Homo sapiens: one gene and its partners. The protein of the gene in region 2 interacts with the protein of the main gene of each other region in a pairwise test. Each region holds a gene or a part of one and is shown on either strand. Other genes may lie near its edges.

Region 1 (6,896 bases), on a different chromosome or scaffold from region 2:
TTTTTGTTACTTAGAAAGCACCTTGATTATTTCCAGTGACTATGTCAGAGCACTTACAAAAGGTGGGTCAGTTATCCTACCTTCTCAGTCAACTTAATATTGCAGTTGATTAGAAATCATTTAAACTGGAAATAGATATAAGCTACATGATCACTATCACTAATGAATGAAAGTAAAGTACAAAATTAAACTAGAAAACTATTTAAAATTTTGCATTTATTTGCTGCTTACTTCTTTTGTGCAATTCAATACCAATGGTATAAATATGATAGCTGATGCTTGTATATTTCTACTTTGGCATAATGACTTTGCTTGGAAAAAAAACTTGAAACTAACATACTGTAAGAATTTGTTCTGATAAATGGTGAGAAATTCTCACTGCTTTATGCTATAAATCAAGAGAAGTTGAAGATTCATGAATAAATCATAATTTATAATATAGTGAAGCATAATTATGTTTCAAAATGTGCATGGAAGAAACTAATGAAAACAACTCACACTTTTGTTCTTCAGATTATTTTACTTGAAATACTTTATAATTAGAATCCAGCTTGTGGAATCACTTAGTCATGAGTCTATTGATTTTAACAAACTAATTTATTAGATTAATTTGGCTTACTTAAAAAATAGCAATCTTTTCTGAAAATGTTTATTAAAATATATATAAAAGGTCTTTACTATAACTAAAAGTGCCCAAATATGTACCATGCTATAATAGTATTTACAATATATTTTCAGAAAAAATGACAATATTCAGATTAAATGCAGGAAAGAAAACATCACATTTTAACACTTAATATTTCCACTGATTCTTCATGCTCTGCAATTAGAAGATAATTTCACTTGTTTAGTTTTCTATCTATTCCAGCAGATTTGTGTTGAAATTTTTTTTCGCCATTAGAAACTGTGATTCTCTATGGGACCTTTTCAGTTTTGCACGCCGATTTTGAAACCAAATCTAAAGTTAAGGAAAAATAAAATAGGTCTCAGAAACATTATTTTATTATTCTTAACATTTCAACATCATGAATAACAACTAAATTTGAAAATTACCTGGATTCTGTCTTCCTCTAGATTCAATTTTTGAGCTAAGTCTTCTCTAATATCGATACCAGGATAGCAGTTTACTCTAAAGACATTTTCTAACACTTCAATCTAAGAAAAAAAAATGTTGATATTCAGTATGTCTCCAAAAATGAGCTTTAATTTCTAGAGTAAAATGACTACATTTAAATCTTGGCAATTAATCTGGATGCCTTTTTAAAAATGATTACCTGGAAATTGTTAAAATATGGTAGTCTACTGTTTCATTAATAAGGCTTCTAAACTGAGATACCAAAGTGAGTGGGCTTTTGCTCAACTTGGTGTCAATTAAAGCCTTTATATTATCATTATTGGGTGAAAAAACTTCCCACCTGGTTTTGAGTAAAAGCAGTTCTTGGTCTTCGGCCTCTATACCAACTCAACTCTCTTTTCAAAGACAGTCTTTCTGAGGCTGAAAAGTAATTTTCATATTTCGAAGCTCTTTCTTCTGGCATTGGGTGATCCACCACGCTAGGGAATGAAATCCCACTGGGAGGATTTGGGACATGTAGACATAAGTTACCATCTTTCCCTAAAAACAAAAAAATAAGCCCTGTCTTAGATGGTCAATCTTATGTTCCACAAAGTTCTATAGAGGTAGTTTCAGGAACTCATCTTTCATTTCCTAGTGGAATTCTGGGGTTCACAAGAGAATTGCACCCCGTTAACCAAAAACCAATAAAAAATGAAGATCCTGTCTTGGTAATCCTGCCTCTTTGGTCTCTGAATGTCGTTTATTTTTCAGTGAAAAGAGATTTCAAATATCTGATGTGTCAAACAGGGAGAGATCTTCTGAAGTAAATGCAGGTTCTTGGGATTTCCTGTGAGTGAATTTATCCACTTTGCTCAATCCAAAGCTGATATTCTTTTAATTTCCCATAGGACTCAGTTGGAGGCATTAAAAGTCCTAGACTCTGGCTGGGCGTGGTGGGTCATGCCTGTAATCCTAACACTTTGGGAGGCTGAGGCAGGCGGATCACCTGAGGTCAGGAGTTCGAGACTAGCCTGACCAACAGGGTGAAACCCCCCTCTACTAAAAAATACAAAAATTAGCAGGCCATGGTGGTGCATGCCTGTAATCCCAGCTACTTGGCAGGCTGAGGCAGGAGAATCGTTTGAACCCAGGAGGCGGAGGCTGCAGTGAGCCAAGATTATGCCATTGCACTCCAGTCTTGGCAACAAGACCAACACTCTGTCTCAGAAAAAAAAAAAAAATAATAAATAATAATAATAAATTAAATTAAAGTCCTAAACTCTAGCTCTATGTAGTATGAAATAAAGGGCAAATTAAACACTGTAAATGAAATAACAAAGAATTGAAACAATTAAGCTGTGGCATACCTGATGAGCTGCAGGTGTCTGCCCAGGGCCTGTGGGGTTTCATTAATGGAACACAGTCTTTCTTCTGGTCCAGTCCTAAGATTCTCTCAATTGAAAAGGAGCAAGTTGAGGGTTTGTTTTCCCCGAGCTGAGCGCCTTCCTGAAGGCTGGGAGACATCCTCTCGTGGTCTGCACAGAGCAACAGCTCTGGCCTCTGCTGGCTCTGCCCCACGTGTATAGGGCTGGGATCTTCCTGCAGTTCACCTTATAGCTCCGCTGACAAGGGGGCTGGATTTAGAACGTCACTAATTAAAATCCTGTCTTAGAAAGTTTTAGCATGTCAATGAACACTTGCCCAGCCAGCAGCTTAAGGAGTTAATTGTTTATTTGTTTGCAAGTAATTAGCAACTAATGGCTACACCAGGGGGGCCACCTACAGGGACAAAAAGTGTTATCTCTCCTAAGCAGAACACAGACTTAACTTTCTCTAAAGAAGTGATGCACAAATGTGGCACTTATCTTTTATTTGAAATCATTAATGTATAAAATCAAGCTTTTTATTCTGAAGTTTATACTTTCATGGGCTCCAGTTACCTAAACATACAGGCAAGATACGAGAGCAGTCGAGTAATAAATAATCTAATTTAAGTAAATTTTCTTCCAAGGAAATGGGAAAAAATAATAATCTCTTAATGCTATTACAGTAATTCTGATGAAAATGCCTGTTTTTCATATGCATATGTAATAGGGAATGTTGTCAATGAAAACACAATAGTATTTGGAGTGCAGCATAGTGGAAAAGGTTGGCAATGTTATTAACATGGAGTGTAATTGTCTTCCAAGTGCCTGGATTAATTCATAGGAACAGTTGCACCAAGTATTTTAAATAATTAATGGGCTAATTCCTTTCCTTCCTCTTTTCTTTTAAATGAGAGAGATACATGTTTATATGAAGGTTCATATGTAATCACCTTCAAGCAACTTAGAAGCATGACTACTTAAAGTGAATAATTTCTCTATCACAGTTATTTCAAAGAAAAGAACATAGTTTGCTTTCTAAAGAAAAATTTCCGTCTGTTGATCTTTTGAGGGATGGGCAGAGGATGGAGTCTTTCAAGATGGTAAGGCTTATGAAAATAACCAAGAACAGAATGTTTTAATTTCATAATCCTAAGAAAACTTGAAATTAAAATTAAAGTATAACTGCTGATTGGGAAGATTTTGAACTGGCTGTTCCCCCCGCAAAGGTATACTTGTAGTTTTTATACTCTGCTCCTCCTCTTCTTCCAGTACCTTCCTGAAGATAAATTTAAGTGCTTAGCTTTATTCATTATTTAAACAACTGCTGTTCTTTCCTTCAGGGAAGGGAAAAACAGTCTCCACTCATAGAGGAAATAGCCTCTATAGGATGGAGCTCATCTTCATCAGCTTTTATCCTATTATGATCTCACAAATATTGAGCTAAATTCCTCCTGATGAAAGCTCTCGGGTAAATAAAGGATCTCACATGCAAAACATCAACAGGCATATGGATTTATAAATGTACGTGTAAAACCATTCTGCGGATGAATAAACCGGTGAACATTTATACCTCATGGAGATTTTGTATATAGTGCTGAGATGTAGATTGTGCAAAGGTGGGGGGTATCTTAATCTGGGACGACTAGGAGGAAGCGAGAGAATACAGGACCTTTTCAGCTTTCTTTCTCTCCTTTGAGACATTCATTATTTCCTTCCACAATTGGTTGAGCACCTTCTCAGAACCAGAAAAAAACAAAATACTATCCTTGCCTTCATAGAGCTCACAGTGGTGCAGGGTGGGGGGCAGGAAACAAATAATAATTATAGGTAAATTATCTAGTATGTTAGCCAGGGTAAGAATGAGAAAAGGAAACAGGTGAGCCAGGTAAGATGAATTAGTGCAGGAAGTGGAGGGGTAGATGTCAGTGTAGGCCTCACTGAGCCCCTGAGCCCCGCAGATGAGTGCCTAAGAGGCACAAGGCAGAAGGATGCCACAGCGCATGCCAGAGCAACTCCAGTTTTCAACTTCTTCTTTATTAACAAAGATGTTCCAATATTTTTATTCAGCTTAAATTGATTTTCCTTGGATTTACATATCTATATCTATCTATCTATATCTATCTATCTATCTATCTATCTATCTATCTATCTATCTATCTATCTATCTATTTTTTTGAGACAGAGTCTTGCTCTGTCGCCCAGGCTGGAGTGCAGTGGTGTGATCTCGGCTCACGGCAAGCTCCGCCTCCCGGGTTCACGCCATTCTCCTGCCTCAGCCTCCTGAGTAGCTGGGACTACAGGCGCCCGCCACCACGCCTGGCTAATTTTTTTGTATTTTTAGTAGAGACGAAGTTTCACCGTGTTAGCCAGGATGGTCTCGATATCCTGACCTCGTGATCCGCCCGCTTCGGCCTCCCAAAGTGCTGGGATTACAGGCTTCAGCCACCACGCCCGGCTGGATTTACACATATCATTTTATATATGGATGAGTAGTTGAAAATAAAAGGCAGGAAAAATTATCTAAAAATGTGAGGGAAGCATTTTCTCATATACTCACTCAACAGATTTTTGTTTGTTTGTTTGCTGGTTTGTTTGAGACGGAATCTCACTGTTACCCAGGCTGGAGTGCGGTGGCGTGATCTCGGCTCACTGCAACCTCCACCTCCTGGGTTCAAGCAGTTCTCCTGCCTTAGCCTCCTGAGTAGCTGGGATTACACGTGTGCACCACCAAGCCTGGCTAATTTTTGTATTTTTAGTAGAGATGGGGGTTTCACCATGTTGGCCAGGCTGGTCTCAAACTCTTGACCTCAAGTGATCCACCTGCCTCGGCCTCCTAAAGTGGTGGGATTACAGGTGTGAGCCACCACCATGCTTGGCCTCAACAGACTTTTACAGGGCACTTAATATGTGCCAGACATTATTATAGGTGCTAGAGATCAGTGACGAACAAAACATGCTAATTTCATGGCATGATAAATACATTGAAAGGAGTGAACAAGGTGATGGAGATGCAATATAATGGCAGAGGGTGACTTAAAATACAGAGGTCGATGGTCGATGGTGGAGGAGGGCCTAAGGAAGTGACATTTTCACTGAAGCTGAGCTAGCATGCCAAGAGCCTGAGAAAAAGCACTGCACTCAGAGACAATGGCAAGTACAAAGGTCTTGCAGTTGAAAATCACTTGGAATGTTTGAGGAGGAAGAAGGCAGTAGTTGGAGTGAAGTCAGTGGTACCAGGTGCATTTGGAGAGCCAGGCTAGGCTGGATAATGGATGGCCTTTATAAAGGACATGGTAAGGAGTTCCAGTGCAAAGAGAAGCCAGGGTAGGGTTTTAAGCTGGGACCAAAATGATAGAATTTGTTTTTAAACCTTACTCTGGCTGCTCTGTGGAAAGGGATTAGAGAGAAGTGAGTGCAACCAGGGAGATCAGTTGGGGAGTTATTTATTCAACACATAATTTGCTAAGCATATACTACTTGCTAGGCATTGTTCTAGGTGTGAGGGATACAGTGGTGAAAACAAAGACAATTGTTTAGCGGCAAAAGATGATGATCCTTTGAAAAAAGCGTGAGGAGAGAGGGTAGATTTGGAGAGAAGTGCAATTCTTTAGAAGGTTATGGGAGATAGAATAATTGAATACTTGGTCCCAATTCTCCAATCCCCATAATATCTTATACAACCATCCCCTTGCTGTGGTTTCATGGTGAATACAGTATACCTCCTACCTCCTGATTTTGGGCTTGTTTGTGGGAAGTGATGTGAGCAGAAGCTCAGTGTGCCCATTTAGGGGTTTTGTTTTTGTTTTTTTTTGAGACAGAGTCTCACTCTGTCACCCAAGCTGGAGTGCAGTGGCGCAACCTCTGCTCACTGCAACCTCTACCACCCAGGTTCAAGTGATTCTCCTGCTTCAGCCTCCCGAGTAGCTGGGACTACAGGTACATGTCATCACACCTGGCTAATTTTTGTATTTTTAGTAGAGATGGGTTTTCACCATGTTGGTCAGGCTGGTCTTGAACTCCTGACCTCAAGTGGTCTGCCTGCCTCAGCCTCCCAAAGTGCTGGGATTCAGGCGTGTAATTTGTATTTTCAGTAGAGACGGGGTTTCACCATGTTGGTCAGGCTGGTCTCAAACTCCTGACCTCAAGTGATCTGCCTGACTCGTCCTCCCAAAGTGCTGGAATTACAGGTGCCCAGCCCCCTCTTGTGCTTTTGACTTCACTGTGAGATCATCCCTGAGATAGCTGCTGCCCTACAGCCTGAGCCCCAGAATGAACACACATGGATCAGATCCTAATCCATCTTGCAGCCTGCAGCCAAGTCAGCCAAGTCCAGCCAATCTCAGCCAAATACCAACTGACCTGCAGTTTTGTGAGAAACATATTCATTGTTTAAGCCACTGAAGTTTTTTCTTTTCTTTTTATTTTATTTTATGTTTTTTTAGAGATAGGATCTCACTATGTTGTCCAGGCTG
Region 2 (8,598 bases):
AGTCTCAGCTACTTGGGAGGCTGAGGCAGAAGAATTGCTTGAACCCGGAGGCGGAGGTTGCAGTGAGCCGAGATCGCACCACTACACTCCAGCCTGGGCAACAGGCTGTTTTTGAGACTCCATCTCAAAAACAAACAAACAAACAAACAAAAAACCAAGCAGCAGGGCCAGGTGTTGTGGCTCATGCCTGTAATCCCAGCACTTTGGGAGGCCCAGGCGGGCAGATCACTTGAGGTCAGGAGTTCAAGACCAGCCTGGCCAACATGGCAAAACCCCATCTCTATTAAAGATACAAAAATTAACCAGGTGTGGTGGTGCATGTCTGTAATTCCCAGCTACTTGGGAGGCTGAGACAGGAGAATTGCTTGAACCCGGAAGGTGAAGGTTGCAGTGAGCTAGATTGCACCACTGCATTCCAGCCTGGGTGATAAGAGCAAGACTCTGTCTCAAAAATAATAATAATAATAAAATAAAAAAAAAAAAGCAGCAGCAACAAAAACCAAAAAACACCTTTCATACACAGTGAAGCTGAAGAATAGCAGTCGTGTTATGATGCAATATAAAGTTCAAAAACAGTGCACTTCAGAACACTGGTTTTAAAAGATGGGGGTGGGCCAGGTGCAGGGACAGCAGGTTGCCACTGATAAGTTCTCCTGATACCCAAACTCTGAACCCAGCCCACACCAGCCCTCCTCCAGCCTGAGAGCCCAGTGCCTCCCTGGAGGCCTGGTGGGCTGGCCTTTCCCAGAGCCTAGCCTTCCCTGGGGGCCTGTTTCACCTGGCCTCCAAGTCTCCCAGCTCTGTGCCCCTCACACCCAGCCCCAGCCACTTAATTAACTTGTGGAATGTGAACATGACCTGTTTACACACTGGAAACTACTCAAGTCTAAAAACCTTCCCACAGAAACCAGAAACCATCCCCAACATTTTTTTTTTTTTTTTTTTTTTTGAGACAGAGTCTCGCTCTGTTGCCCAGGCTGGAGTGCAGTGGTGTGATCCTGGCTTACTGCGACCTTCGCCTCCTGGGTTCAAGCAATTCTCCTGTCTCAGCCTCCCGTGTAGCTGGGATTACAGGTGCCCACCACCATGCCTGGATAATTTTCTTTTTGTATTTTTAGTAGAGGTAGGGTTTCACCATCTTGGCCAGGCTGGTCTTGAACTCCTGACCTCATGATCCACCTGCCTCGGCATCCCAAAGTGTTGGGATTACAGGTGTGAGCCACTGCGCCCGGCTAATTTTGTGTTTTTAGTAGAGACAGGGTTTCTCCATGTTGGTCAGGCTGGTCTTCAACTCCCGACCTCAGGTGATCCGCCTGCCTCAGCCTCCCAAATTGCTGGGATTACAGGCGTGAGCCACCGTGCCCAACCTACATCTTTTTTCTTCTTTTTTCTTTTTTTTTTTTTTTTGAGACAGGGTCTCATTCTGTCACCCAGGCTGGAGTACAGTGGCACGCACATTGCTCACTGCAGTCTTGACCTCCTGGGCTCCGCTGAACCTTCCACCTCAGCCTCCCAAGTAGCTGGGACTACAGACACACATTACCACACCCAGCTACTTTTTGTATTTTTTGTACAAAATTTATAAACATTTTTGGTGGGTTTTGCCATGTTGCCCAGGCTCAAACTCCTGGGCTCAAGGGATCCTCCCACTTTGGCCTCCCAAAGTGCTGGGATTATAGGCTTGAGCCATTGTGCCTGGCCCACCCTCATTGTTTTTTAATTTTTTTCTTGAGACGGAGTCTTGCTCTGTCACCCAGGCTGGAGTGCAGTGGCGCGATCTCGGCTCACGGCAATCTCTGCCTCCTGGGTTCAAGCGATTCTCCTGCCTCAGCCTTCTGAGTAGCTGGGACTACAGGCGTGCACCACCATGCCTGGCTAATTTTTGTACAGATGAGGTTTCGCTATGTTGGCCAGGCTGGTCTCGAACTCCTGACCTCAGGGTGATCCGCCCACCTCTGCCTCCCAAAGTGCTGGGATTACAGGTGTGAACCACTGTGCCCAGCCCACCCCCGTGTTTTAAAATCAGTTTTCTGAAGTGCGTTGCTTTTGAGCTTTACATTGCATCATAACACGATTGCTATTCTTCAGCTTCACTGTGTATGTAATAGGTTTTTTGGTTTGTTGTTGCTGCTGTTTTTTAAGTCAAAATCTGTCTTCTCTCCCCTGGATTGGGTCAAGGCTGGGGCCCTGGGAAGTACCTTGATGAAGTCTTGGCTGTGCTGTTCCATGAGCTCCAGCTTCTCTGAGAGATAGCCTGGGGTGCAGGGACACAGGCATTGACGTCACAGGAGATGTGGGTCAGAGGCTGAAGGAAGGGAAGGTGGTGGCGCAGCTGGAGGACTAGGTGTAATACGGTCCCAGAAAAACTACAGGATGGGTAAGATGTGCCCTCATCCCGAGTCCATGAGGAACTCGCTCATCCCTCTCCCACCCCGTGCCTTGTCCTGGTCCAAGGCAAAGCCAAGGGCTTGGTCCTGAAAAAAGATTCTAGGAATTGGTGGAGGGGAGGGTTGGAGGAAGGGGAGAGTGACGGGCATCAGGCAGTAGGAACGCTACCCAGGAGGGAATTTCCGCAGAGCATTTTGTCCAAGAAGCCTCGGCTAGAGGCATGCACGAAGAGGCAGTATGTCAGCATGCCGAGTTTTTCCTGGTATTTCCCTCTCTGCACCTCAATGGTCAGCTCTCCCTGAGGCTCCCCGGTGTCTGAGACCATGGCCAGCGTCTCAGAGAAGAACAGCATCTGTAGCTCCTCCTTGTCTGGGGTGAGGGGCCCGTGGGAACAGATAAAGCCCCTGCTCCTGGGCCCCAATCCAATCCTCTGACCCCATGACCACCAGTGTCCCCACAGTCCCCACCTGCCTCCTCATCCCACAGCCTTCCTCACTGGCACGGACAGGTGAAGACTCCTGCCCCATGTCCCCATGTCCCCGGGGGGCCTTCCCTTGAAGAATGTCAACAAACAGGCCTCAGGCCTTTTCTGAGTCCCAGGAGAATCAAGGAAGAGAGAGAGAGAGAGAGAGAGAGAGAGAGACTGGACTTTCTTCCCTCCTCTCCAGACTTGCACCCCTCCCGCACCCCCAACCCCGACACTGTCTGAGCTCACGGAGGGAGCTGAGGAAGTCGATGGCTTCAGCATTGGCCTCTGGGAGTGGCAGACACTCCGGACCCGAGGGCTGGTGGTCCTTAGCTCTGGAGCCTACAGAGGGATGAGAGGCTAAGATGGCAGACCCTGGGGAGAAGGGCAGGGGTCAGGGAGGCAAGGCAGGGTACCTCAGTCCTGGCCCCAGCACCCAAGAACAGAATCCTCTAAGACTACCCCGAGGGTGGATTGGGAAGAAAGAAGAGGATCCCCGCCTCCAGCCCCAGCAGTCCTCTTCCCACCTGTGGAGTAAACCTTGGAGGACATGCTGTGGGCCTGCCTCTACCCGGTCTGTGTCCAGCTGTCTCCATGGCAACCAGAGCTGGACAGTGCCTCTTAAAGGGCCATCAACCCACTTTACTACACCCAGACCTTGGAGGGAACTGACACTGCAGGTTTGGGGCTCAGCACAAGCTTGAGGTGTTGTCCAGCAGAGGGAGCATTTGATATATATTTTTTTCTTTTTTGAGACGCAATCTCGCTCTGTCACCCAGGCTGGAGTGCAGTGGCGCATTCTCATCTCACTGCAACCTCTGCCTCCCGGGTTCAAGCAATTCTTCTTGAGGTCTCAGCCTCCCGAGTAGCTGGGACTACAGGCGCACACCACCGCGCCCAGCTAATTTTTGTATTTTTAGTAGAGATGGGGTTTCACCATATTGGCCAGGCTGGTCTTGAATTCCTGAGCTCGTGATCCTCCTGCCTCAGCCTCCCAGAGTGCTGGGATTACAGGTGTGAGCCACCGCGCCTGGCCCACATTTGATATTCTTAAGAGGCAGAGTGAAGAAATGGGTCATTAGAATGACCTTAGAAGAGGCCAGGTGTGGTGGCTCACACCTGTAATCCCAGCACTTTGGGAGTCCCAGGCAGGTGGATCACTTGAGGCCAGGAGTTTGAGATCCAGCCTGGCCAACATGGTGAAACCCATCTCTACTAAAAATACAAAAATTACCAGGGAGTGGTGGCACATGCCTGTAATCTGTCTCAAAAAAAAAAAAATGACCTTAGAAGATATGAACGAAAGTCAGACAGAGTCTCAAATGCACACTATCCAATTAGCTGCTACATGAATATCTCTGCAAGTTACAGTTCTAATACATGTAACAATAATGATAACAACAATGACAACATAGCAAACTCTTTGACTGGACTTATTCCTGGTGAGGCGCTTTTTTTTTTTTTTTTAGAGAGTCTCACTCTGTTGCCAGTCTGGAGTGCAGTGGCGCCATCTTGGCTCACTGCAACCTCTGCCTCCTGGGTTCAAGTGATTCTCCTACCTCAGCCTCCTGAGTAGCTGGAACTACAGGAGTGTGCCACCATGCCCAGCTAATTTTTGTATTTTTATTTTTATTATTTTTATTTATTTATTTGTTTGTTTTAATTATTTTTGAGAAAGAGTCTCACTCTGTCACCCAGGCTAGAATGCAGTGGCATGATCTCAGCTGCAACCTCCTCCTGCCAGGTTCAAGTGATTCTCCTGCCTCAGTCTCCCAAGTAGCTGGGACTACAGGCACCCGCCACCACACCTGGCTAATTTTTGTATTTTTAGTAGAGATGGGGTTTCACCATGTTGGCCAGGCTGGTCTTGAACTCCTGAGCTCAAGTGATCCACCTGTAGAGTCCAGCCCTACGGGGCTTAGCGGGTGTTCTCCCTGTGTGTGGAGACGAGAGATTGTAATAAATAAAGACACAAGACAAAGAGACAAAGAGAAAACAGCTGGGCCCGGGAGACCACTACCATCAAGACATGGAGACTGGTAGTGGCCCAGAACGGCTGGGCGCGCTGATATTTATTGCACACAAGACAAGGGGGCACGGTAAGGAGGGCGAGTCTTCTAAGTGATTGACAAGGTGAAGCAAGTCACATGATCACAGGACAGGGGGCCCTTCCCTCTTAGGTAGCCGAAGCAGAGAGAGAGACGGCAGCATACATCAGCGTTTTCTTCTATGCACTTATAAGAAGGATCAAAGACTTTAGGACTTTCACTATTTCTTCTACCGCCATCTACTACAAACTTCAAAGAGGAACCAGGAGTACGGCAGGAACATGAAAGTGGACAAGGAGCGTGACCTTTGGAGCACAGCACCACAGGGAGGGGTTTAGGCCTCCGGATGGCTGCGGGCAGGCCTGGATAATATCCAACCTTCCACAAGAAGCTGGTGGAGCGGAGTGTTCCCTGACTCCTCCAAGGAAAGGTGACTCCCTTTCGCGGTCTGCTAAGTAATGGGCGTCTTCCCAAACACTGGCACTACCGCTTGACCAAGGAGCCCTCAAGTGGTCCTTATGGGGGCGTGACAGAGGGCTCACCTCTTGCCTTCTAGGTCACTTCTCACAATGTCACTTCAGCACCTGACCCTATACCCGCCGGTTATTCCTAGGTTATATTAGTAATGCAACAAAGAGTAATATTAAAAGCTAATGATTAATAATGTTTATAATAATGATTGATAATTATCCATGATCATCTCTATATCTACTTTGTATTATGACTATTCTTATTCTAACTATTTTCTTTATTATACTGAAACCGTCTGTGCCTTCAGTCTCTTGCCTCGGCACCTGGGTAATCCTCTGCCCACACTTCCTTGGTCTTAGACCTGCGGGCCTCCGCCTGGTCAGCCAGGAGCTTCTTGTAGGCCTTGTCTGCTTTCAGCTTGTGGATGTGTTCCAGGATAATCCGCTTGTTTTTGAACACATTCCCCTTCACCTTCAGGTACAGGCTGTGATACATGTGGCGATCAATCTTCTTAGATTCACGGTATCTTCTGAGTAGCCAGCACAGAATCCTCATTCTCCTTATCCACGTGACCTCTGGCATTCGGACGTTGGCTGTACCCTTCCGCTTACCTATGCCCGTGTGCCTGCCCTTCCGGGAGGCCAAGGTGTTTTTCTGGCATGGAGCCTGGGAATGGACCATCACAGGCTTGCCGATGATCAGCCCATCTTTGATTAGCTTTCGGATCTGCTGATGGGAGCTGGCATTGGCGATTTCATTGGTCTCACTGGGGTCCAACCAGACCTTCTTGCCACAGCAGAGGACACTAGAAGCGAACCTCTTCTAAAGCCTGAGCATATTTATGGCTGCGGCTGCAGCAGCGAAAGGAAAGAACTCTGTTATTTCAGGTTCTTAAAATGTTTAAAATTGGTATATTAGAGTGCTTAAAAGATACGTCTGCAGATTCAAGTTTAAATTGGGTTATTGAATAATTGATTTTGAATTTTAAAGTTTCTTATTGAGATTGCAAGTAGAACCAGAACATTAAAAAAAATAAAATTAAGATTTACTGTATTTATATGTTTACTTTTATTAGGTTGCAGTAAAGGTATTTGGGAGGCTGGTTTATCAATCAATCGCTTTAAAAAAGGAAATAAAATATATTGGATGAACAACTGCAGTATAAGCTGCCTAAAGCAGTTTTAATTTTGAAAAGAAGACCAACCAATTATTAATTAAAGCCCCCTTGGCTGGGTGCAGGGGCTTACACCTGTAATCCCATGGGAGGCCAAGGTGGGTGGATGATTTGAAGCCAGGAGTTGAAGACCAGCCTGGGCAACATAGTGAGACCCTGTTTCTAAAAAATGTTAACATTCACTAGATTTATGATGAGAATTATATGACTGGTAAGTTGAACTTAAAAGTTTTAAAAATACTTTTGTTTGTTTGTTTGAGACAGTCTCGCTCTGTCCCCCAGGCTGGAGTGCAGTGGCTCAATCTCGGCTCACTGCAAGCTCTGCCTCCCGGGTTCACGCCATTCTCCTGCCTCTCAGCCTCCTGAGTAACTGGGACTACAGGCGCCTGCCACCACACCTGGCTAATTTTTTTGTATTTTTAGTAGAGACAGGGTTTCACCACGTTAGCCAGGATGGTCTTGATCTCCTGACCTCGTGATCCGCCCGCCTCAGCCTCCCAAAGTGCTGGGATTACAGGCGTGAGCCACCGTGCCCAGCCAATACTTATGTTTTAAAATTTATATTTTCCTATTCAACATAGTATTGGAAGTTCTGGCCAGAGCAGTCAGGCAAGAGAAAGAAAAAAAGGGCATTCAAATAAGAAGAGAGGAAGTCAAACTATCCCTGTTTGAAGATGACATGATCCTATATCTAGAAAACCCCATCATCTCAGCCCAAAAGCTTCTTAAGCTCATTAGCAACTTCAGCAAAGTCTCAGGATACAAAATCAACGTGCAAAAATCGCTAGCATTCCTATATACCAACAACAGGCAAGCAGAGAGCCAATTCATGAACGAACTCCCATTCACTATTGCCACAAAAAGAATAAACTACCTAGGAATACAGCTAACAAGGAAAGTGAAAGATCTCTACAAGGATAACTACAAACCACTGTGCAGAGGACTCAGAGATGACACAAACAAATGGAAAACCATTCCACGCTCATGGATAGGAAGAATCAATATCATAAAATGGCCATACTAGTCAAAGCAATTTATAGATTCAGTGCTGTCCCCATTAAACTACAATTGTCATTCTTCACAAAACTAGAAAAAACTATTTTAAAATTAATATCAGATGAAAAAAGAGCCCAAATAGCTAAAGCAATCCTAAGCAAAAAGAATAAAGCTGCATCCATCACGCTACCTGACTTCAAACTACACTACAGGGCCACAGTAACCAAACAGCATGGTACTGGTAAAAGAACAGACACATAACTTTGTAACAGGTCTGGAAGCTCTGAGTTTATCTTGGGACCTCAAGAGAGGATCACCCAACTCACAGGTGTTAGAGGATACAAACCCATGGCTGGGCTTGGCTTTAAAAGTCTTATCTGAAATTCCTTGTGAAACAGAGTTTCATTAAAGCCAATGCAAAAGGCCTATGTAAGTAAAAATAACCATTCTTGCTGCACTTTACGCAAATAATCAGGCCAAGTATAAGATTGTAGGATATAATAAATTCCTCTTCAAAGGTTTTAGCCTATAAATTGTTAAGCACAATGAGTTCTGAGATCCTCTTCAAAGAACCAATGTATCAGTATATTCAGCTCTCCTGTTCTTTGTTCTTCATTTTAAAGTTTCTCGTTCTTTACATCTCCTTGCCCCTAGTTACAGTAAACAACCCCCTCCTAGCCTCTATCACCTGCTCTGAACTTAGTCACCCTTGGTCACCTGCTCTGTTGTTAGTCATCCTGAGTCACCTGTTCTGTAACCATCCTTCCTGCCAAACTACCTATCCCACCACTCTGGCTCATACCCCTGCTCTCTTTAAAATAGCCAATCAGAATTAGCTTAGACTGTGTGGTCCAACCCTAGCCAATAGGGGAAAGACACAGCAGTAGGGACTAGCTGAGTTAGGATAAGAACCCCTTCCCCTCCCTTGTTCAGGTGTGCTCTCGCCATTGCTCCATCCGTGAGACACACCCTTGTATGGAAGTAAAATTGCCTTGCTGAGAAAATTAAATTTATGTTTGAGTGCTATTTCTTTTCTTTTTTCTTTTTTTTTTTTT
Region 3 (7,239 bases), on a different chromosome or scaffold from region 2:
GAGCATAGCCACAGACTCACCAATGGGTGATTGCCTTGCTATAAAGTCTCTAAATTTGAGTGGTAACATTATAGCTAAACTGTTAATCTCACTTGTAGCGTAAATAGCTGTGAGGTACCCTACCCCAACTGCAAAGATTTAAAACCATGAAAAATCACTGCTGGTGAGAAGACAAATTGGTGCCAGCCTTTAGGAGAATAATGACACACGTTTCCAGAGCAATGCACATTCTCATATCATTTGTCCCAGTAATTCCATCTCTGAGAGCTTGGATACAGAAAAACGAAATCAAAGTATGAAGATGTTTATTGCAGCATTGTTTATAAGGAAAAACAAGAAACAATCTGAGTGTTCAAGAGTAAAGAAATGTCTAGACAAACAATAGAATATACACTTGATGGAAAATAGCATAGTGATTTAAAATACTATTCACAAAGAAAATGAAATTTTCACAACATAATATACATATAATGTTAAATGCACAAAGCCGAATAAAAATTCTACGATAGGAACACAACTATGTAAGCAAACCAAAAAAAGACTGAAAAGGTCGTCACCAGGAGTGATTGTTTGCCTGGCTGGTACTTGGGTAATGAAAAAGACATTAAACATGAAAAGATCTCTCTAGCTCTCTACTTATTAGCAATGGCTTACATTACATTGAATACTATTTTTTTTCTGTTCACTTTTTCATATCTTTCTCTGGCATTTTGGTAATGCATAAATTACCCATAAAGAAATGCAGGTGTTTTGCTGAAAACGCATCAAATGAAACCTCTAGACAACATACCAAGAAAGCATCTTTAAAATATTTTTATTATGCTCAACATCATTTTTCTGTATAAAACAATACACATTTATTTGGAAAATACAGGAAAAGTGTAAAATCACACAACTGTGGTGAGGTAAAGAAAAATTTCGTTTAATTCTTCTACTCAGATCTAAGTGTTGATATCTTACTATGAAGGAAACGGATTTTTTTTTTTGAGATGGAGTTTGACTCTTGTCACCCAGGCTGGAGTGCAATGGCACGATCTTGGCTCATTGCAACCTCTGCCTCCCAGGTTCAAGCGATTCTCCTGCCTCAGCCTCCCAAGTAGCTAGGATTACAGGCATTCAACACCATACCCAGCTAATTTTTGTATTTTTAGTAGAGATGGGATTTCACCATGTTGGCCAGGCTGGTCTGGAACTCCTGACCTCAGGCGATCCACATGCCTTGGCCTCCCAGAATACTGGAATTATAGGTGTGAGCCACCGTGCCTGCCCAGGAAACGGTTTTTTGATAGGAGGGACTGGTATGTTTATCTTAAACAAATGCATATAATTCTGATATAAAACCCCGATGTAACATTTTACCCTTCAAGAAAGCCAAATCATTCATAGACAGTGTGGTGTAGGTTTAAGGGCAATCAAGAGTTGTTGAGCTTGATCTATGTGAAGCTCATAGGGTGAGTTGTTGAGTTCGATCTATGTGGAATGGGGAGAGTAGGGGCTGGTGAGGGCTCTGTAGTGGACCTGCCCTCCTTGACTTACTAATTGAAAGCAACTTCTGCAGCTGTTATTGTTGTTGAGGTTGTATTCCACCAGCAGGTTGGAGACACAGGCAAAATATAACTAGATTTCAGCCACATGTTTGGACATGGTGCCAGAAGACTAGTTCATGCTGATTCCTGCATTTCTCCCTGTTATTTGAGGACAGGGGCCATCCTCTATTCAACTCTGTATCTCCAGCAAAGCACTGAACATAGCAGATGCTCAATTAACATATGTTGAAGTAAACTAAAGGCCTGGGTTCAAATTCCTACCCTATCATGTATTAGCTAGATGCCCCCATCCACTTCTTTGGCTTCAACCCCGTCTTTGATCTAGAGACTTTCAAATCTCAATCATTGACCTTGTCTTTCCAAAACGCCAGACCCAACTAACTCCTTGCCTCCTGGACTTTTCTACCTTGATGTTCCATAAGTAGCTCAAAATCAGTATGTCCCCCCTGAACTCATCACTATCTCTCCTCAAACTCCTACTCTTCCTCCTGTGAACCCTAGCTTCGTTAATGGTGTCACCATCTCTCTGGGTACCCAAGCAAGAGACTAAGTGGGTCTCTCTGCTCTTTTTCATTTATTTACTCATAAGATCCTTCCTGCTGACTCTGACTCAAAAATGTTGAAACCTCATCTCCATTCCCACAGCTGCTTCTGTTCAGACCCCCATCATATGTTATCTGGATTATTACATCAATCTCCTAACTGGTTTCTCTGCCTCTGATCTTCCTGTTTCAAAACATCTTCTTTGGTCATAACCAAAGGTGTCTATCTGAACTGAGGCATAATTATATCACTTCCTTTCTTTAAAACATCCCAAGGCTCCTCATTGTCTTAAGAATCCAAATTCCTGACAACTCAGAGGGTCTGTCACAATCTGGCTCCAACAGCCCTTTCTGGTCTCATCTCATATAAAACTGACCCCTCTTATCCCAAATAGGATGGTCTGCCCTAGCTGTTTAAAAATTTCCCCCCTCCCCCAGATGGAACCATAGCATCTCTCTTTGCATAGAATGGTACAGAATCTTCTCTCCCATCTCCTTATTGCTGCTGCTCCTTCCCCTGGGAGCCTCCCCTGTGTATTGGAAGTCTAGCCATGTGTCACCTCCTTTGAGCACCCTTCTTGGGGCAGAACCACTTATTTCTCATAGTGCTTAGTCCATACATCTATGGTAGCACTTATTGGATCCTTGTGTGTGTGTGTGTGTGACCTCAGAGCTTAAGATGGTCCCTGGTGCATAGTGATGACTCTGTCAATGTTTGGGACAAGAGTGAAGTTCTAAATAGGGCACAATGGATTTAACTGCTGGCACCAAATCCCTCCCCTGTGAAAACAGCCCCAGCCTCTGAGTCCTGTCTACAGTCTCAGCCCACCCCAGACCCATTCTCTTTGCAGGGATCCTCAAACCTCCCTTTGCAAGAAGATCTTCTGGATGCTTTTTTCACAGGTAGAGCATCCTTCCTGCGCCACAAAAGGTTGAGTGGGTAGTGATCAATTCATGCTCAGTGAATTAGATTTGTTCAGAGAGGCCCAGAGATGGGGTAATGATCCCATGGGTAAAAGATCCATGTCTGGAGAAAGGATAGGTGTGCACCTAGAAGAAGAGAAGAGAGTGGGGCTCATTTATATTCTGAGATTTAAATGAGATGTGGCGGGAGGACTCTTCATCCCATCTGATTAAACCTACACAAGAGTTCATGTGGGGGCACACAAAGACTAACTAAGGATATTCTCTACGTTCTACTCAACTTTTGGGATGTAGCTTAGAATCCTAAAACACAGTACTACAGAAAGCCTCGAAACTAGGCTAGATTCTCCTCCCATCCCATCCAGGCTTCTCCGCAGCAGAAATAGGTGTTTAATTAAATGGAATAATATAGTTCTCCTTTCATACCTCAGGAGATCAATGAGCCCATAGCTAGCACTCACATATTTATAGACTGAAGAAATGAACATATTCTGGGGCTCAAGGAGATCACCACCTACTGGGGAGGCAGGGGAGAAGGGAGGATGCTAGGACCCTGCTATCCCCACTACACGGCACATTGCAGTCTAGGGTTCACCGTGCAGTAGAAAGGAGAAGCAAAGCGATGAAACCCTCGTGGGATTCGTGAAGGCTTTATGGAAAAGCGATGTGATGATCAGTGGGATTTCTAGGGGGAAGGGATCCAGGGCCAGCAACCAGCTGAAGGAAAGGCTGAAAGGAGGGAAATGCAGGGTACGATCTGGATGGAGTTAAAATGGCAGAAAACTGAGGCTGAGTGAGAGGTCTGGTACTGAGGTGGGGATCGGAGTTCCAGCACTGGCCTTTGACAGCCTCTGGGTCCCAGGTGGAATGGGTAGGGCCAGAGCCCTTGCCTTCTTCTCCAATCAACACCAGGGGTGTGGTGTCTTAGGCAAGGATGGGTGCTGTGCGCCCTGCCGCCCACCATAGGCAGGGCCTGGGAACCCGGGGAGGACTCTCCCCACCTCCAGCCTCCGGCAGTGTCCGCCAGGCAGGGCGGGGGCCAGCGCTGGTGTTGAGTAGTGGACCCCAGGGGGATGACTAAGCCTTGCCTGCGAGCAGACTCGAGCATGCCAAGTTATGAGACGATGATAACTCTGCCCCGAGCCTCTGGGGTCGTGGCCGTGGGCCGGCAGGGGCGAGGCGGGCGTCCAGAGGGCGGATAAAAGGGGCCGCGCTGCGCCGGGGCCGCTTTCTCCGCGCGGTGCCTGCAGGGCTCCCAGCGAGTGGCAGCTTGGGAGGGGCCGCCCGGGCGGTCAGACTGGCACCTGAGCGGCCACCGCGTCCCGGCCAGGCGGGCAGACCGACCCCCTCCTCACCTCGCGCGCGGCTGACGCAGGCAGGGCGCCCGGCCCCTCCTGGGGACCATCAGGTGCCGGCTGGGGGCTGTAGGCACCGGACGGAAGCAGGCGGTGTGAGGACCGACGACGCGGGCATGGCGGGGGCGGCCTGCGAGCCGGTGGCCAGGCCGAGCCTGACCTCCATCTCGTCTGGGGAGCTTCGCAGCCTGTGGACCTGCGACTGCGAGCTGGCCCTGCTGCCGCTGGCTCAGCTGCTGCGCCTGCAGCCCGGTGCCTTCCAGCTGAGCGGCGACCAGCTCGTGGTGGCCAGGCCCGGGGAGCCGGCGGCGGCGCGGGGGGGCTTCAACGTCTTCGGTGACGGCCTCGTGCGCCTCGACGGGCAGCTCTACCGCCTCAGCAGCTACATCAAGAGGTGGGTGGCCTCGCCGTGCGCCCTGGCCCGTCGCCTGGTACCCGCAGACGCCTCCACCCGGCTGCGGTCTCTGGGAGCCTGGGCTGTCCTCGCTGCCTGCGACACCGCGTGGCCCCTTGCTCCGTGCGCTTCTAGACTTTCCTTCTGCTTCTATCACCCGGAGCCTGCACGCTCGCCCTGGTTCTTCTGCCTCTTGCACTGACATTTTGCAGCTGCTGCTTGAAGCCGCCCAGAAGGGCATCAGGACTGGGGGCGAGGGGGAGGGCAGGGGCCCCCCAGCCAGAGCTCATGAGTGGCAGATGCTTCTCCCATTCTGGCTCCTTAACTGGGTCAGATGAGCTCAAATTGGGAGCACACCCTTTAGGGGCTGTCTGCAGCTCTGCAAGACTCACATCCTGGCTTTGGAGCATGGGTGGCGGTGAGGAGCAGGGGGCATGCACCATTCTGAGCACTGCCAGCCCTCTCCAGTGAGGAGACCGAGTGGAGAAGCATGCAAAAGCTCAAAGTTTCCCATCTCTGGCCTCACTTCGTGTTTCAAAAGTAAACAAATAAACCGCAGCTGAGAAGGGAACAAAGCCCCTGGAAGTCCAGCCCGGGGCCATGTGGGCTGTGGAAGGCACAGATAAGTTCTGGGGAAATAAGTGCGAAACCTGAGGGCCTTAATGGGAAGGAGGCCCCCAGGATGCTTGACTGTTGTGGCCAGAGTGCCCCCAAGCTCTTCTTGGCAGACCGGCAGGATGTGGCCCAGCCATCTGAAGCAGGCTTTGGTGCCACAGGGTAAAGGAGGGCACTTCAGGCCTGATTCCACATGGCCTCAGGCCTCCAGAGTTCACTCTTGGCAAGGGCCTGGAGTGCAAAGACCTGTTATATTTGTGCTGAGAGAGCCAAGTGCCTGAAGAGGCAAGCATGGTCTAGAGTTTGACTCAGAAATGAATAAGATAGCCAGCTTTTGAGACACAGCGCCTTTGCTACTGGGAAAGACAGCGTGCTGTGGCACCCTGTGGGTAGGAGGGAGCCAAGAGAGGGAAGCAAACAAAATGAGATATTGAACGTGCAGTCTTCAAAACTCTTGGAGAAAAAACCTTGCTTTTCCAAAGATAGTGAGGGCTCTGAATGCCTGAAGAACCATTCCCCAGCAAGAATTTCTCCCTTTCTTAGTGAAATGAAAATTCCAATTCCAAACCATAAGCGGAGGACTGTGGGAGGAACTGAGTCAGATGTGTGCAGATTTAAAAAGAAGATACCCATTGTATTTGAGAGCAGGGTATGAAAAATAAAAATGTCCAGAATGAACGAAGCCGTAAGTTAGGGTTTTGACAGAACCAGTTCTCCTAATTGTAGCAAACAGTGCTGCAGAATCTGAAATGATTTTGAAGTCTGTCATCTAACTTTTGCTTTGAACACCTCCTACACAAAAGAAAATTAAACAACAGTGATTCCCCTGACAGCTTTGAATCTAGAATAAACAACTGGGCCACAGTGACCAGGTAACACAGACCAGGGTGCAAATACAAAACAACAAATAATAGGCTATCATTGTATAAGCAATACTGTGAGGGCTTCTTTTGTACCTGGGAAATAGCAAGGAGCCTCTGAAAATAATTTGGGTGATGGAAGGAGCTATCTATTGTCCTCAGGCAGGGAAGGAGGCTTTTATAACTGAGTGTGCAGTCCTGAAGGATGGCCAGGAGGGAATGTGGTCTAAATGGAGACAGCCTTCCAGGCAGAGGGGGAGGACTGGACTGTGGGCAGCAGTGAGAGGTTCTGCCCTCGGGAATCAGGAGGTGGGAGGTATGCCGAAGCCAGAACTCAGATATCTAAAGCTTCGTTCCTCTGAGCTGCCAAATTTGCCAGTTGTTTTTGGCTTTAGAGATAGCATAAAACCTCCCTCCCTCCCCTCCCTCCCTCCCCACTTCCTTCCCTCTCTCCCTCCCTCCCTCCCTTCCTTCCTTCCTTCTTTTTGAAAAATAAGCTCTGGCCAGTTTTATTAAAGATTTGCATGATTTATTTTCACCAGTCTGTTCTGGCATGCTTCCAAAGATCTCAGGGCTGGGTGCAGTGCCTCATGCCTGTAATCCCAGCACTTTGGGAGGCTGAGGTGGGCGGATTGCTTGAGTCCAGGACTTCGAGGCCAGCTTGGGCAACATAGTGAGACCTCCTGTCTACAAAAATTAGCTGGGCATAGTGACATGCACCTGTGGTCCCAGCTGCTCAGGAGGCCGAGGTGGGAGGTGGATGGCTTGAATCTTGGAGGTGGAGCTTGCAGTGAGCCGAGATGGTGCCACTGCACTCCAGCCTAGGCAACACAGTGAGACCCTGTCTCAAAAAAAAAAAAAAAAAAAAAAAATCTCAGCATTCCCTGGATCAGTGACACCAGGGTGCACTTGCTATGGTATTTTCCACATGCTGTGCCCAATTTAATGTTATTACTGCTGGAGTGGTAGATGGCAGTTTTGAGAGTATGCACCTTAGTTCTG

Evidence for each region. The genes of interacting proteins can lie anywhere in the genome.
Region 1: the proteins of CATIP (region 2) and HESX1 interact in binary tests that used the Homo sapiens proteins (3 or more experiments, as listed by UniProt).
Region 3: the proteins of CATIP (region 2) and MEDAG interact in binary tests that used the Homo sapiens proteins (3 or more experiments, as listed by UniProt).

Annotation. Positions count from the first base shown.
Region 1 is NC_000003.12:57,197,338-57,204,233, forward strand, and holds HESX1 (homeobox expressed in ES cells 1), read right to left. Parts: upstream 2,642-6,896; 5' UTR 2,582-2,641; coding exon 2,425-2,581; intron 1,616-2,424; coding exon 1,416-1,615; intron 1,156-1,415; coding exon 1,054-1,155; intron 959-1,053; coding exon 860-958; 3' UTR 501-859; downstream 1-500.
Region 2 is NC_000002.12:218,351,693-218,360,290, reverse strand, and holds the start of CATIP (ciliogenesis-associated TTC17-interacting protein), read right to left. Parts: upstream 3,435-8,598; 5' UTR 3,407-3,434; coding exon 3,382-3,406; intron 3,230-3,381; coding exon of another isoform or gene 3,197-3,229; coding exon 3,104-3,196; intron 2,758-3,103; coding exon 2,557-2,757; intron 2,378-2,556; exon of another isoform or gene 2,325-2,377; intron 2,306-2,324; exon of another isoform or gene 2,255-2,305; coding exon 2,199-2,254; intron 1-2,198. UniProt on the Homo sapiens protein: Plays a role in primary ciliogenesis by modulating actin polymerization.
Region 3 is NC_000013.11:30,902,032-30,909,270, forward strand, and holds the start of MEDAG (mesenteric estrogen-dependent adipogenesis protein), read left to right. Parts: upstream 1-4,239; 5' UTR 4,240-4,484; coding exon 4,485-4,762; intron 4,763-7,239. UniProt on the Homo sapiens protein: Involved in processes that promote adipocyte differentiation, lipid accumulation, and glucose uptake in mature adipocytes.